Linked DNA regions of Homo sapiens. The protein of the gene in region 2 interacts with the protein of the main gene of each other region in a pairwise test. Each region holds a gene or a part of one and is shown on either strand. Other genes may lie near its edges.

Evidence for each region. Proteins that work in one complex are often made in the same cells at the same time.
Region 1: the proteins of RUSF1 (region 2) and TMEM248 interact in binary tests that used the Homo sapiens proteins (3 or more experiments, as listed by UniProt).

Annotation. Positions count from the first base shown.
Region 1 is NC_000007.14:66,916,862-66,924,224, reverse strand, and holds the start of TMEM248 (transmembrane protein 248), read right to left. Parts: upstream 3,001-7,363; 5' UTR 2,764-3,000; intron 2,392-2,763; exon of another isoform or gene 2,376-2,391; intron 1-2,375.
Region 2 is NC_000016.10:31,498,051-31,505,725, forward strand, and holds part of RUSF1 (RUS family member 1), read right to left. Parts: intron 2,682-7,675; coding exon 2,636-2,681; intron 1,476-2,635; coding exon 1,443-1,475; intron 1,358-1,442; coding exon 1,252-1,357; intron 1-1,251.

The DNA of each region.
Region 1 (7,363 bases), on a different chromosome or scaffold from region 2:
AGGGCTTGCCATTTATCCTTTGGCTGTAGCCAGAGCTGCAGAGACCAGACTAGAGCTGTGCTCCTGCAAACTGAACACAGGCACTGAAACAACTCACAGACATCAAATTTAATTTCCTGATTGTCAATACCAGACAGGAATGACAATCAGCATCTTTTTCATTGTCCTTAATAAAATAAGTTAAGCATTGTTTTATGCCAACGGCCTCTTACAGAACAAGACAAACTCATTAAATGAAAACAATTCTTTAGAAACCAAAGGCCAGGCCTGGTGGCTCACGCCTGTAATCCCAGCACATTGGGAGGCTGAGGCAGGCGGATCACTTGACGTCAAGGGTTTGAGACCAGCCTGGCCAACATGGTGAAACCCTGTCTCCATTAAAAATACACAAATTAGCTGGGTGTGGCGGCATGCACCTGTAGTCCCAGCTACTCAGGAGGCTGAGGAATCGCTTGAACCCAGAAGGCAGAGGTTGCCGACTGCGTCACTGCACTCCAACCTGGGCAACAGAGCAAGACTCCATCTCAAAGAAAACAAAAACAAAAAAACCCAGAAATCTACGAGAAACTAGACTGGGTAGCTTATGCTTATCTTTCTTAGAAAAGCATTTAACCCTTAACTAGCTGCCTCTGCCAATATTTCTAGGCACTGATTGTCCAGCTACCTAGCCTGGGTGCTTGTCCACCAACTGGCCCTAGTTTTTTCATTTCCCAGCTAATTCTGAATGGCCCAAATCCTCTTGATCTTTCTAGGTCCACCTCAAAGTTTACTTCACGAGTTTCGGGCTGAGCAAGGTGGCTCACACCTATACTTCCAGCACTTTGGGAGGCCAAGGTGGGCAGATCACCTGAGGTCAGGAGTTCAAGGCCTGGCCAACAACATGAAACCTCGTCTCTACCAAAAATACAAAAATTAGCCAGGCGTGGTGGCAGGCAACTGTAATCCCAGCTACTCAGGCAGCTGAGGCAGAAAAATCGCTTGAACCTGAGAGGCAGAGGTTGCAGTGAGCTAACTTCGCGCCACTGCACTCCAGCCTAGGCAACAGAGCAAGACTCCGCCTCAAGAAAAAAAAAAAAGTTAGTTTCTGATCCTAACCATAACAAAATCCTGAACAGTTGGTATACCACTATGGCAATTCAGTCCTGCCACATTTTCTAGCCTATTGCTTCCTCTAAGTACATTCCTTACAGGCAGAAACTATTAATATATTCGCACTTATGCCAGGTGCGGGTGGTTCACGCCTATAATTCCAGAACTTTGGGAGGCCGAGGAGGATGGATCACCTGAGGTCAGGAGTTCAAGACCAGCCTGGCCAACATGGTGAAACCTTGTCTCTACTAAAAATACAAAAATTAGCTGGGCATGGTGGCGGGCACCTGTAATCCCAGCTACTAGGGAGGCTGAGGCAGGAGGATTGCTTGGACCTGGGAGGCAGAGGTTGCAGTGAGCAGAGATCGCACCACTGCACTCCAGCCTGGGCGACAAGAGTGAGACTCTGTCTCAAAAACATATATATATATAATCTACCTTTCCTCCTTGCCACAGATGCAGCTAGAGCCTAAACGGAGAAGGTGCCAGTTAACTAGCCTTTGGTGATTTTAGCATTGAGACTCCGGTGCTAGCAGTGATTCCAGTCCACCTGATTCAGGCCACAGGAATTCTCCCAGAATCTTCACTACAAGTTGAAACTCCAAATCCTTAATCCTAGAGAGTAAATGCACTTAGGGTCAATGCACACCTAAGTATACCTTAGGTGCGCGACAGGTCTATTTCCTGTCAGAATCCCTAGATGAAAAGAGGAAGTAGATGGACACCCTTATCGGTCAAGCGCTGATGGAACACTCATCTACAAATGAGATACACATGCTGAGACCCTAAGCTGACCCAAGCTGATGGTGCTATCGAGACAAACCACTTTATCACATATTCATCAGCAGTCTCGGAGTTTTTCTTCCCATTCCCTCCCGTAGCGGCTCACCTTTGAGGCAGGAAAGAAGCAGTTCAGGCGGAAGCCACAATCTTTACAAAGCAGGCTTCAGAGAAGCTCACCATTCATCAGCCAGTGAGGGCTGTCACCTGCTAGTTGAGAACTAAACTCAGACATCAGATTCTTCCACAAAGGCCTCCTCACCAGCTGTCCGATGGGTACGGCGTTCAAACGACTCAAAACAGCACAACAAGCCTGGTTTTATTTCTGATGGTCCCCATCAAGGGAACTGAAACTACATGCCTCTAGATTACCTTGCGATCACTCCTCATTTTATTAAAAACATGAAGAAAGAATCCACCCCATTCCGGATATTTACCAAGCTTGACACAGGGAACACCACTATGCCATTTAACTTTGTGGACGTACGTGAGTCTCTCCCTCCCACCTTTCTGAGATGTGTTTCACTGCCAAACGGAGAAGAAACGCAAACACTCCCCAAAGCCGAAAAATGGCAAACGACCAAGATGTTTCCCGTGCCAAATCCGAATTATCCAGGCCTCGGCTCCAGACGTGGGAAGTCCCGCCATCTCCAAGGCCGGCAGGGAACCCTGGCTCGGGGGACGCGAGTGGGCAAACCCCAGTGTGGGGGGACCAGGCCGAGGTCGGCCGATGCTGGGCGACCCCCGCCAGCAGTTGGGGCGGGGTCTGCACCCTGAGAAGCGGTGAAAAAAGCCGGCGGAGGAGCCGCTCCCGACCAGCACGCTCCCCGCTCCCGGCCCCGCGGGCAGCCCCGACTGGGCCCGACCCCAGCCCGCCCTCCAGCCCCGGCTCACCCCGCCCCGGCGGGCAGCTGCGCGCCCCGGGCCCAGCCGGGCCAGCTGCTCGGCGGACGCCCGCGGTCGCGCTGGGCTCACTCGTGGCGGCGCGTGGCGGGCCCGAGGCCGCTAGGCACCATCTTCTCCCCGCGCCGGGGGCAGCGTCTGGCTCCGCGGGGCCGACGCGAAGACCAGACGCCAACCGGGCTCCCGCCGCCGCCTCAGTTCGGGCTCCGGCAACCGCGGTTTCCGGGTGAAAAAAAAAAAAAAAACCACGCCACCTCCAACGCCGCCGTGACCTCCGACCCCGGGCGTCCGACGGTGGCGCGGCCGGGACAAGCTTCGTCAGAGGCAGGCGGCGGAGACCACGCTTCCGGGACGGGTAGCGTGCATGCGGACGTGCGTGGAGTGCGTGATGGACGTTTATGGGTCTGTGTGCCGGTCTGGTGTTGTGCGTGTGCGTGTGTGCGTAGTGCGTGTATGTGGCTTGTAGTGTGCATCGTGTACAACGGTGTGTGCAGTGAGTGCATGTATGTGCATCTGTGTGCGCGTGTGTGGTGTGTGATGGTATGGGTGTGTGCATGCGTAGATGTGTAGGGAGTGCGCACACGTGTGCATGCTCATGTGTGTGCTATGCGTGTGTCTGTTGATGTGCTTGTATATTAATCACTGCTGATAAACATGTAATTTTGGACCAGGCGCGGTGGCTCAGGCCTGTAATCTCAGCACTTTGGGAGGCCAAGGCAGGAGGATCGCTTGAGTCCTGGAGTTCCAGACCAGCCTGGGTAACATAGGGAGTCTCTGACTCTATTTATAAATAAAATAAAATGAAAATGAAAATTTTTAAAGTATAATTTTGTACAATCACTTTGCAAAGTAATTTGGCATTATGCAGTACACTTAAAGATATACACATCCTCTCTTGAGAATATATTACCCTGGAGAAACAGTTGCACCTATGCACAAGTAGACAAAATAATGCTCATAGCAACACCAATGTTTTTAGCAGCAGTATGACTCACTAAAAATTGGGGAGAAAAAGCAGATGTCCATACAGTCAAATGTAAAAACCAACTTTGATATATTCATGGTTTGGTTTGTTTTTGTAGAGACAGGGTCTCCCTATGTTACTCAAGCTGGTCTCGAACTACTGGACCCAAGTGATCCTCCCACCTCGGGAGGATCTGGGATTACAGGTGTGAGCTGCCACGCCTGGCCCATCTTCGTGTTTAATCGGGTACAAAAGACCAGTGAAAATTATTTAATACAGCTCACACAATTATGGTAGTCAATTGCAGACTATATTGGCAGGGACCAAATCACAAAATGGTACACTGCTACATATTTCCATTATGTAAAATTCAAAACAGGCAAGTTCATAACATATTGTTTAGAGATGCATACATAATTGTTTGAACTGACATGAAGCATGAGAAAAAGATGTATAAACTTCATGTTAAGTGTTAGGGGAATGGGATGGGGGAGGAGTACAGGGTGCTTTAAAGGTAATAAAGTTTTGTTGTTCTTGCTTTTGAGACAAGGTCTTGCTCTGTCACCCAAGCTGGAGTGCAGTCGCATGATCATGGCTCACTGCAGACTCGGCCTCCCAAGCTGAAGTGATCCTCCTGTCTCAGCCTCCTGAGTAGCTGGGACCACAGATGTGCACCATCGTGCCCAGCTAATTTTCATATTTTTCACAGAAATGGGGTTTCCCCCAAATTGCTCAGGCTGGTCTCAAACTCCTGGGCTCAAGTGATCCGCTCACTTCCACCTCCCAAAGTGCTGGGATTACAGGCATGAGCCACCACACCCAGCCATCTTTAACAAAAGTTTATCAGGTGAAGCCTGTAATGTTCAACACAATGGCTCAGTTCCTTCACTGAATACCCTCTTATTTCCATGATTCTTGCCCTCTTTTGTTATCTTGCACCATTTGAATTATCTTCCTTGTTGTAATGGGTGTGACATTATCTGCAAGTGCAGGCAGTATTGAATTGTGTATATAATGATGGAACCAAACTTCCTAATGAGATGTCCCTTACCAGGCTAGGACTGATAATGTAATTAAAGGAGCCCCACCACCAATGGCACCATATATGACTTAGTGATTGAGACCGTAGGAGAATGTAAAAAAGGCAACCTCAAACCTTTCATCCTAGCTGCCTTGTATGGGATTTCAAAAAAAATTTTTGTTTTTGTTTTGAGATGGAGTCTCGCTCTGTCGCCCAGGCTGGAGTGCAGTGGCACGATCTTGGCTCACTGCAACCTCTGCCTCCTGGGTTCAAGCGATTCTCCTGCCTCAGCCTCCTGAGTAGCTGGGATTACAGGCGCATGCCACCACGCCCCGCTAATTTTTGTATTTTTAGTAGAGAAGGTGTTTTGCCATGTTGGTCAGGCTGGTCACGAACTCCTGGCCTCAAGTGATCTGCCCACCTTGGCCTCCCAAACTGTTGGGATTACAGGTGTGAGCCCGAGTCCAGTAAAAAAAAAAAAAAAAAAAAAGAAACCTTTTTAAATAGAGACAAGGTCTCACTGTGTTGCCCAAGCTGGTTTTGAGCTTCTGGCCTTAAGCAATCCTCCTTACTCAGCTTCCCAAAGAGCTGGGATTATACGTGTGAGCTACCATGTCCAGCTGGATTGTAAAATTCTTTTTTTAAAAAAAGATTACATGGTGCAGCCACTTTTAAACAACAATCTGGCAATTTCTCAAAAAGTTTAACATAGAGTTATCATTTGAAGCCAGGTGTGTTGGCTCACGCCTGTAGTCCCAACAGTGGGAGGCTGAGGCAGGAGGATCGCTTGAGCCCAGGAGTTCAAGACCAGCCTGGCCAACATGGTAAAACCCTGTCTCTACTAAAAAATAAAAATAAAAAAATTAGCTGGGCATGGTGGTGGGCACCTGTAATCCCAGCTACTCAGGAGGCTGAGGCAGGAGAATCACTTGAACCTGGGAGGCAGAGGTTGCAGTGAGCTGAGATTGCGCCACTGCCCTCCAGCCTGGGCAACAGAGTGAGACTGTCTAAAAAAAAAAAAAAAAAAAACCATTCTGGAAAACATAGCAAACCCCATCTCATAAATAAATGAACAAGTTCTAAGACATATGGCTTTATTTAAAAAAATAAAAAGTTACTGGCCACATGTGGTGGCTCACGCCTTTAATCCCAGCACTTTGGGAGCCCAAGGTGGGTGGATCACTTGAGGTCAGGAGTTTGAGACCAGCCTTGCCAACATGGCGAAACCCCGTCTCTACTAAAAATACAAAAAATTAACCGGGTTTGGTGGCCGGTGCCTGTAATCCCAGCTACTTGGGAGGCTGAGATGAGTGGCTTGAACCCAGGAAGCAGAGGTTGCAGTGAGCTGAGATCACGCCACTGCACTTCAGCCTGGGCGACAGAGCCAGACCTTGTCGCCAAAAAAAATAAAAGTTACCATTTGACCTCACAATTCCACTCCTGGAGATCCAAGAGAATTGCAAACAAAAATTCCAAACAAAAAGTTGTACAGGAGTGTTTATAGCAGCATCATAATAGCCAAAAAGTGGAAGCAACTCAAATGTTCATCAACTGATTAATGGAAAAACAAAATGTAGCAAATTCACAAGCAGAATGGTATTCAGCCATGAAAAGGAATGAAGAAATAATGCATACTACAGCATAGATGAATGTTGAACACATTATGCCAAGTGAAAGAAGCCAGTCACAAAAGGCCCTGTATTGGATGATTGCGTGTCTATGAAATGTCCAGAATAGACACATTTATGGAACAGAAAGCAGATTGGTGGTTGGGTTGCCTAGGGTGGGTAAGAGGCAATTGGGAGGTGGTAATAGCCAGGGAGTTTCTTTTGGGAGTGATGAAAATATTCAAAAACAGGCAGTGCGCAGTGGCTCATGCCTGTAATCCCACTACTTTGCGAGGCTGAGGCTGGTGGATCACTTGAGGTCAGGAATTTGACACCAGCCTGGCCAACATGGTGAAACTCCATCTGTGTTAAAAATACAAAAAATAGCCAGGCGTTGTGGTGCCTGCCTGTAATCCCAGTTACTCGAGAGACTGAGGCACGAGAATCACTTGAACCTGGGAGGCGGATATTGCAGTGAGCCAAGATCGTGCCATTGCACTCCAGCCTGGGCGACAGAGCAAGACTCTGTCTCAAGAAAAAAAAAATTATGATGATGGTTGCACAATTCTGTGATTAAACTAAAAACCACTGAAGTGTACACTTTTAATTGAGTTAATTGTATGTATGTTAATTAGATCTAAACAAACTTTTTTTTAAGGTTAAGGCTTTACAAAAGAAATAAAACCAAAACAAGAAAAGGGATAAAAATATAGGCTCTAATCATGTGGAAATCCTTAGACAGTTAATTTTTAAATGGCATGAAAAAGAAGGAAATTGACAAAGAGCCTACAAAACTTTGAGATAATTTTCTAGGAATCTGGGGTTCCCACCGTGAAGTCTCCTCAAACTCCTTAGCATATACAGTTCTGAGGCTTAGAGAAGTTTCAGAAAGAAAATTCTTCCAATGAACCTACAGCATTGAATGCCAAAATACCCATGTTTGTTTGGGTTTTTTTATTTATTCATTTTGAGACAGGGTCTTGTTCTGTTGCCCAGGTT
Region 2 (7,675 bases):
TAACAGAACTGAAGGTTCAGCCGAAGGTGACAGATAAGGGGAAGGGGGAAGAGGAGGAGGTGGTGGCAGTGGTGGTGGCGGCAGCATAGATGACAGCCAGGCTGGCTTCTCTTGGTGCAGCTGGAGATGGAGGTTGTGGAGAGGGGAACTCTAGAGAGGGGTCTTAAGAGGGAAGCTCATGGCCCTGTTCCATTCCCTTGTTGGACAGATGAAGAGACTGAAGTCTCAAAGGCAGAGTTTGAAGCAAAAGCCAGATGGCACAACCCTCGGTCCATAGCTACAGCCATGCTTTTCTCTGGGGTTTCCTACCCTGTTTAGGGGTGCTCGTAGCATTTAGGCTTGCAACCAAGGAAGCTAAATGTCCTCTACCACAAGGAACCGTTGCACCCCAAATGCTAGTACTTATGGAGAAACACGGCCCTAACGTGATTTTAAGTTGACACATGGGCCTTGGAATGGGTTTTCCATTTTCTTGAGTTTCTCCTCTGGGCCAGGGACTTAACTCTGACAGGATATGCTCTTTACTGAACCATGCCAGGCCTCAGTGTCCTCATTTGGGTGAGATCAACCTGCAAGGGTTGTGCAGGCAACAGCTTGGCGTGGAGGAAGAGTGTGCTTGAGCCCCGCGTGTCCCCCAGCTCACTGTGCGGTCTGTGCTCCATCTCCACCTCGCCTCCAGACCTTAAGCTGTGCTGTTTCTTTTGCCCGGAACACCCGCCCTGCACCTTAAACTCCATCTTCAGGACCCAGGCTCAGGGGAGCTCTTCCTACACTCCCTGACCAGGCTGGAATCCCCGCCTCAGCCTCTTGCAGGCCCCAACATTTCTCATTTAGAATACCTGTACCTATAATTCCACAAACACTGGTGCAATTATGTGTGGTTTCCTTTCAAAGACGGGGGCCCACATTCTGTGCCAAATATGCAGTAGGCACTCAATAAATACTGTACTGAAAGAACCAAAGGGAAGTCAAGGAAGCTGGTCCCAAAATGTCAACATTGGACAACCCCTTCTAGTTCTCAGCTCGGAGCTCCCTCCCCAGTCCTGTGGCTCTAGACATTGCCTTACACTTTCTGGGGCACTAGATGCTGTCTGGCTGGAGGAGGGTCAGAAAGGATGGTTGGGTTCGAGTAGAAACATCTGAACTTTCTTATTCTTCTTGAAGTGGCAGGTAAACTCACAGAGCCCAGGTAAACTCACACACTACCAAGGCAGGTGTTTTAGGCAGATGGGTGCCCCCACAGGCAGCTACCTTGGCTAGGTTGCTGGTGGAGACGGTCATGGTGAAACAGATTGGGTATACAGGAGCCATAATCTCAAGGAACATGGCTACGTCATTGAGGATGTCCGCAAAAAGCCTGGGGAGGGATCAGAGGTTAGAGGTCAGAGGTAGGAGACTTTCATAATGGAAGACTCCCCTCCCCCGTCCCCGCCCCTCCTCACCTCCACTGCTTGGCATTGCAGTCCAGTTTGCTCCTGTTGGGGAGGAGAGGTTGTTGTAATTTGGACTTAAGGAGAAACACATCCTATGGGCAGTGTGGGGAGTCTTGGACCACAGTAAAGTCTGAAGAGCTCAGGAAAACCCACACCCCCAGACAGACATCTGTCCCCACAGCCGGTCACTGCTACCTAAAATGCCACCATTAGCTGGGAGAACCTTCAGTGACTGACTGATCACCTAGTGTCTCCCGCTTATGAACTCATGATTTACCAAGGAAAAACCCTGATTGTCTTGTGGCTGCTCCCCAGCCTCTGTCTGTCCTTGGAGGGAGGCTCTTCCTGAGTTCCTCTGCCTCTCTCCGTTCTTCTTCTTGCTTTAGAGTGAGGGTACCCAGTGAGCATGTTTTGGACTAGTAAACATCACATTGAGTGTGTAACCCTGCATGTTACAGACAACTAGCCCTCACAGGGGATATGATTTCCCTGGATCACACGCAGAGTTGGGGAAAAGGCTAAGAGAGCCGGGCTCCGACATCCAGGCCTAGGGTACTTCTGTTACACAACACCGTGGACGGCTACCTCACCTGCCCTTTTCGTCAGACAGTGACTCCCTGCCCTGTGCACAAACACTTGGAAACAACTTCTCTAGGGTCCCAGTGGCAGGAGATACTGCAGCCCCAGCCCAGCTCAGGATTTGCAGCATTAGGCCCGAGTCTCAGTATGAGATCTCCTGGAGGGAATGGGAATATTCTTGGGAGAGGTATCAGACACACATAACGAGATCCTGAACACATGGCCTGGTTGAGGGTTCTGCCCAGTGAACTGCCCAATACCATGGAAAGCACAGGCTTCAGGTTCAAATCCCATCTCGCTAGTTATAAGCTGTGTGGTTTGGGCAGGTAACTTCCCTCATGCAGGTATATTTCACATTTATGAAATGTACACATCCAATCCCATCCTACAGAGTTGCTGTAAGGATTAGAGACAACATACAGAGGCTCAGGGGGCACAGTTACAGCTGTTAATGGTAGCTAGTGTTTACTGAGCCATTATGTACGATGCCACGGGCATTAAGCACTTTGCATAGATCATCTCATGGAACCCTTACAGCCACAATTAATGGCAATACTATTACTATCATTACTACCACTACTGGGAAGAGTTGCCAGAGTTGCTGGCCGGGAAGACAAACTCACCCTTTCCACCAGGCAAAGACGATGCGGCCCAGCATGCCAGTTGAATCTGGGGGAAAGAAGGCACAGGTAAGGAGCAAGGAAGAGGTGTGGGAGCTGTGGGGCCTGGCAGACCCTGGCACTGAACTGGCCAATTCACTGAGTCACTGCCTTTGGGAACTCGGTCTGGTACTAGAAGTTGTGGATAGTCATAGCTACATAATGGGGTCAGAAGTGCCTACAAATAGCAGTTCCTCAATATGTCCCCTAGGAGACATGGACAAGAAATGTTCTTTGCAGAATTGTTCATAACAGCAAAAAACCTGGGAATAATGCAAATGTTGACTGACAGAATACATAAATTCTAGTATATTCACCCAGAGGCATTCATTCATAGATGAATACTATTAAACTCTTGCATGAAAATAACTCATGAAGACCACATACAGCACAGTTTGCAAAGCTCTAAAATTAAAACTAAACAATATAGCACTTAGGAATATTTACCTATTTGGTAAAACTATTCAAAAAAGCAGGAAATCTTAAGTGGAAATTCAAAGGTTATTGCTAACCTGTTCTAGCTCTTAGGCTGGGCAGTTGGCTCACAGATGGCTATTATGGGATAAATAAATAAAAGGATTTAGGCTGGGTATGGTGGCTCAGGCCTATAATCCCAGCACTTTGGGATTACAGGGGGTTTGGGCCCAGGGACTGCTTGAGGCCAGGAGTTCAAGACCAGCCTGGGCAACACAGCAAGACCCCATCTCTACAAAAAGTAGGAAAGAAATTAGCCAGGCATGGTGGCATGCCTGTAGTCCCAGCTACTTGGGAGGCTGAGGCGGAAGGATGGCTTGAACTCAGGATCAATGCTGCAGTGAGCTATGATCATGTCACTGCACTCCAGCCTGGATGACAGAGCAAGACCCAGTCTCAGGAAAAAAAAAAAAAAAAAGATTTGAACTGCAGCTGGGGTTGCACGGCAGAGGGACAGGCCTCCTTAGGCTGGGCAGAGTAAGAGAAGTCTCTGGAATCAGTGGGACCTTCGTTTGCACAACAAATGCTTTCTGGCTACCTAACTCTCTCTGCCAGGTACTTCATGACCACAGTGACCAAGATGATCCCAGGGTCAAAATCCAGCCAAAGAGCAGATAACAATCAGTATAGAAAACACTGATTTAGACCAGGAATCACTAAACTGTTTCTACTCCCTGGTTTTGGAAATAAAGTATTACTGGAATGCAGCCATGCCTATTTGTTTACAGATTGTCTATAGCTGTTTTTGCAAGACAATGACAGAACTGAGTTGCTGCAACTAAGATTATAAAGCCTGCAAAGCATTAAGATCTGGCCCTTTACAGAAAAAGTTTGTCAATCTGGACCATCCATTATACAGAGAGCAGCACCCATTAAGCCTGGCAGAAATATTTTAGAACGAGACACCTGGGAGGGACTCATACAGTGGACATGGGAGAGGACAGATACCATGGGGAGAGGATTTGGACTTGTCTGAGCTTGAGGGCACTGACCCTGAGGTGGGGATGTAGGAGAAAGGACACTACGTTATGGGAATGAGGGCTGGGAGCTTCCCACGAAACATAAATGCAATGACACGGGCCAGCCCTCCCATTCTCCACTGAGAGCAGATGCATTCTCCCCTTTCCAGAGCCTTCTTGGGCACTGAGTCATGCTTGCCCACCCTGGACTTGAGGGAAATCAGTAAGCGCTCCAGTGCACACCTGAAATACCTGTGCTTTTTCATCTTCACAATGATCCTGAGACTTTGGGAGGGATCATTCCCCTTCACTAAGGCTCCCATTAAATCGGTGAATAAAATTGAGGTATTTTACAAGAAAATATGGATTTCCAGCTTCTCTGGAAGAACCTGAAGATATGGCCACACTGGGGCTGCCCTCTCTCACGGCCAGCATCAGCTGGGGCTACCTCACTGAAGGAAAGCATGGGTCCAAGCTACTGCCATCTGGCCTGCTTTGTTTCTCCATTTCTGTCCTGACTCTGGAAGTAACACCCAACAAGGTGGATTTACAGGCCTCCCATCCCTCACTTTAACCTCTTCCCTTCAAGTACATTATATTCTCGGCAAAATCATCATTGTGCCAGCCACCACACCTGGCTAACTTTTGTATTTTTAGTAGAGATGGGGTTTCACCATGTTGGCCAGGCCAGTATCAAACTCCTGACCTCAGGTGATCCACCCGCCTCGGCCTTCCGAAGTGTTGGGATTATAGGCGTGAGCCACTGTGCCCAGCTCAGACTCTATTTTTCTTCCCTTTAGCTACACACTTGTATCCACTCAGGTGTATGTCCTCCTTGGGCCACCTGACAGAAAGGGAGCCTATTCTACCTTTCCATGGATCATCAGAGGCATTTACAGGACAAATGATATATATACTCCCTAGCATCTGAGTCACTACTGTCCACTAGAATAGAAAACTCCCACTTGCTTTTTTTTCCTCTTCATTTACAACTGGCCAAGCTGTAAGATCTAGAAACATCTGAGTCCTAATAAGGAATCAGCTGACCACAAATTGTACTTGGCTCCACTTGACATTCTTAGCTGGCAAAAGAGTGTGGTAGTTAAGAGTAGAACACAGGAATAAGTCTGCCTAGGTCAAAATCATGGCCCTAAGTGACCTTGGACAAGTTACTTAAACACACTTTTGTCTCTGTTTTTCCATCTAAAAAATGAATAATGGCAGCTAACTAATATGGCTGCTGCAGAGATCAAGACACATATTACATGTAACCATACAAAATGTGTGGCTTAAGGTAGGTTGCCAAAATATTAGCAACAAGTTTTATTACTATTGCTACTCATGACAACTGGCATCACGTTCCACTGAGACAGGTAACTGAAAATGATCACATCAAAAAATCCCAAGTAAGTTTCTCAGATGAAGCTCTGCACAGAAATTTCCCATGTTTGATGAAAATGAGCTTGTAAAATCCTAATTGAGAGCTTCTTTTACTATCAATAACAAGCCTTTATTTATTTATTTTTTTAGATGGAGTTTCACTCGTTGCCCAGGCTGGAGTGCAATGGCGCAATCTCGGCTCACCACAACCTCCGCCTACTAGGTTCAAGTGATTCTCCTACCTCAGCCTCCTGTGTAGCTGGGATTACAGGTGCACACAACCATGCCTGGCTAATTTTGTATTATTAGTAGAGAGGGGGTTTCTCCATGTTGGTCAGGCTGGTCTCGAACTCCTGACCTCAGGTTATCCGCCTGCCTCAGCCTCCCAAAGTGCTGGGATCATAGGCGTGAGCCACCGCACCTGGCCAATAACAAGCCTTTTAAGTAGATTTTTCATCCTTTTTCTTTGAGACAGGGTCTCAGTCTGTCATCCAGGCTGGACTACAGGTGCCTGCCACCACGCCTGGCCAATTTTTGAGTTTTTTGTTAGAGACGGGGTTAAACCATATTGGCCAGGGTGGTGTCCAACTCCTGACCCCAAGTGATCCACCTGCCTCTGCCTCCCAATGTGCTGGGATTATAGGCGTGAGCCACGGCACCTGGCCTTTCTTTTTTTTTTTCATATCTTAAAGTGATCTTGATTTTTCTTAATAACTTGTCTGAGCTAAAGGTTTAGCGTTCCTTTTTTGTTTCAGACAGGATACTGCTCTGCTGCCCAGGCTGGAGTGCAGTGGCACTATCTCGGTTCAGTGCAACCTCCACTTCCTGGGTTCAAGTGATTTTCCTGCCGCTGCTTCCTGAGTAGCTGGGATTCCAGGCACGTGCCACCATGCCTGGCTAATCTTTGTATTTTTAGTACAGATGGCGTTTTACCATGTTGGCTAGGCTGGTCTTGAGCATCTGACCTCAACTGATCTGCCGACCTTGGCCCCCCATCCCAAAGTGCTGGGATTACAGGGATGAGCCACCATGCCCGGCCAAGGTTAAGCATTCCTAATCCAAAAACCTAAAATCTGAAATGCTCCAAAACCTGCAGCTTTTGGGAGTGCAGACACGATGCCACCAGTAGAAACAGCCGATGGTGAAATAGCACAAACTGTTCTTGTAGGGAAAAGAAAGAGATCAGACTGTTACTGTGTCTATGTAGAAGAGGAGGACATAAGAAACTCCATTTTGATCTGTACTAAGAAAATTGTTTTGCCTTGAGATGCTGTTAATCTGTAACTTTAGCGCCAACCCTATGCTCACAGAAATGTGCTGTATGGAATCAAGGTTTAAGAGATCTAGGGCGGTGCAGGATGTGTCTTGTTAACAATATGTTTACAGGCAGTATGCTTCATAAAAGTCATTGCCATTCTCCATTCTCGATTAACCAGGGGCACAATGCACTGTGGAAAGCCACAGGGACCTCTGCCCAAGAAAGCCTGGATACTGTCCAAGGCTTCCCCCTACTGAGACAGCCTGAGATGTGGCCTCGTGGGAAGGAAAAGACCTGACTGTTCCCCAGCCCGACACCTGTAAAGGGTCTGTGCTGAGGAGGATTAGGAGAGATATGCTGGCGGCAATGCTGCTCTGCTACTCTGCTACACTGAGATGTCTGGGTGGAGAGAAGCATAAGTCTGGCCTACGTGCACATCCGGGCACAGTACCTTCCCTTGAACTTATTTGTGACAGATTCCTTTGCTCGCATGTTTTCCTGCTGACCTTCTCCCCACTATCACCCTGTTCTCCTGCCGCATTCCCCTTGCCGAGATAGTGAAAATAGTAATCAATACTGAGGGAATTCAGAGACCAGTGCTGGTGCTGGTCCTCCGCATGCTGAGTGCCGGTCCCCTGGGCCCACTGTTCTTTCTCTATACTCTGTCTCTGTGTCTTATTTCTTTTCTCAGTCTCTCGTCCCACCTGATGAGAAATACCCACAGTGTGGAAGGGCTGGCCTCCTTCAGTTCTGAATCAAGGCAATCATGGTAACAGTGACAATGAAGAGGATACTGTTACCACTACAGAAAAAGTGCCTATAGACAGCACGGTGAGGATGTGGGAGGGGATTACTGTGGCACTAGAGCAGCATACATTCATAACGGAACAAGAAATCAGGCAGTTTATAGAATCCAAGAGAGACTTCTAAGAT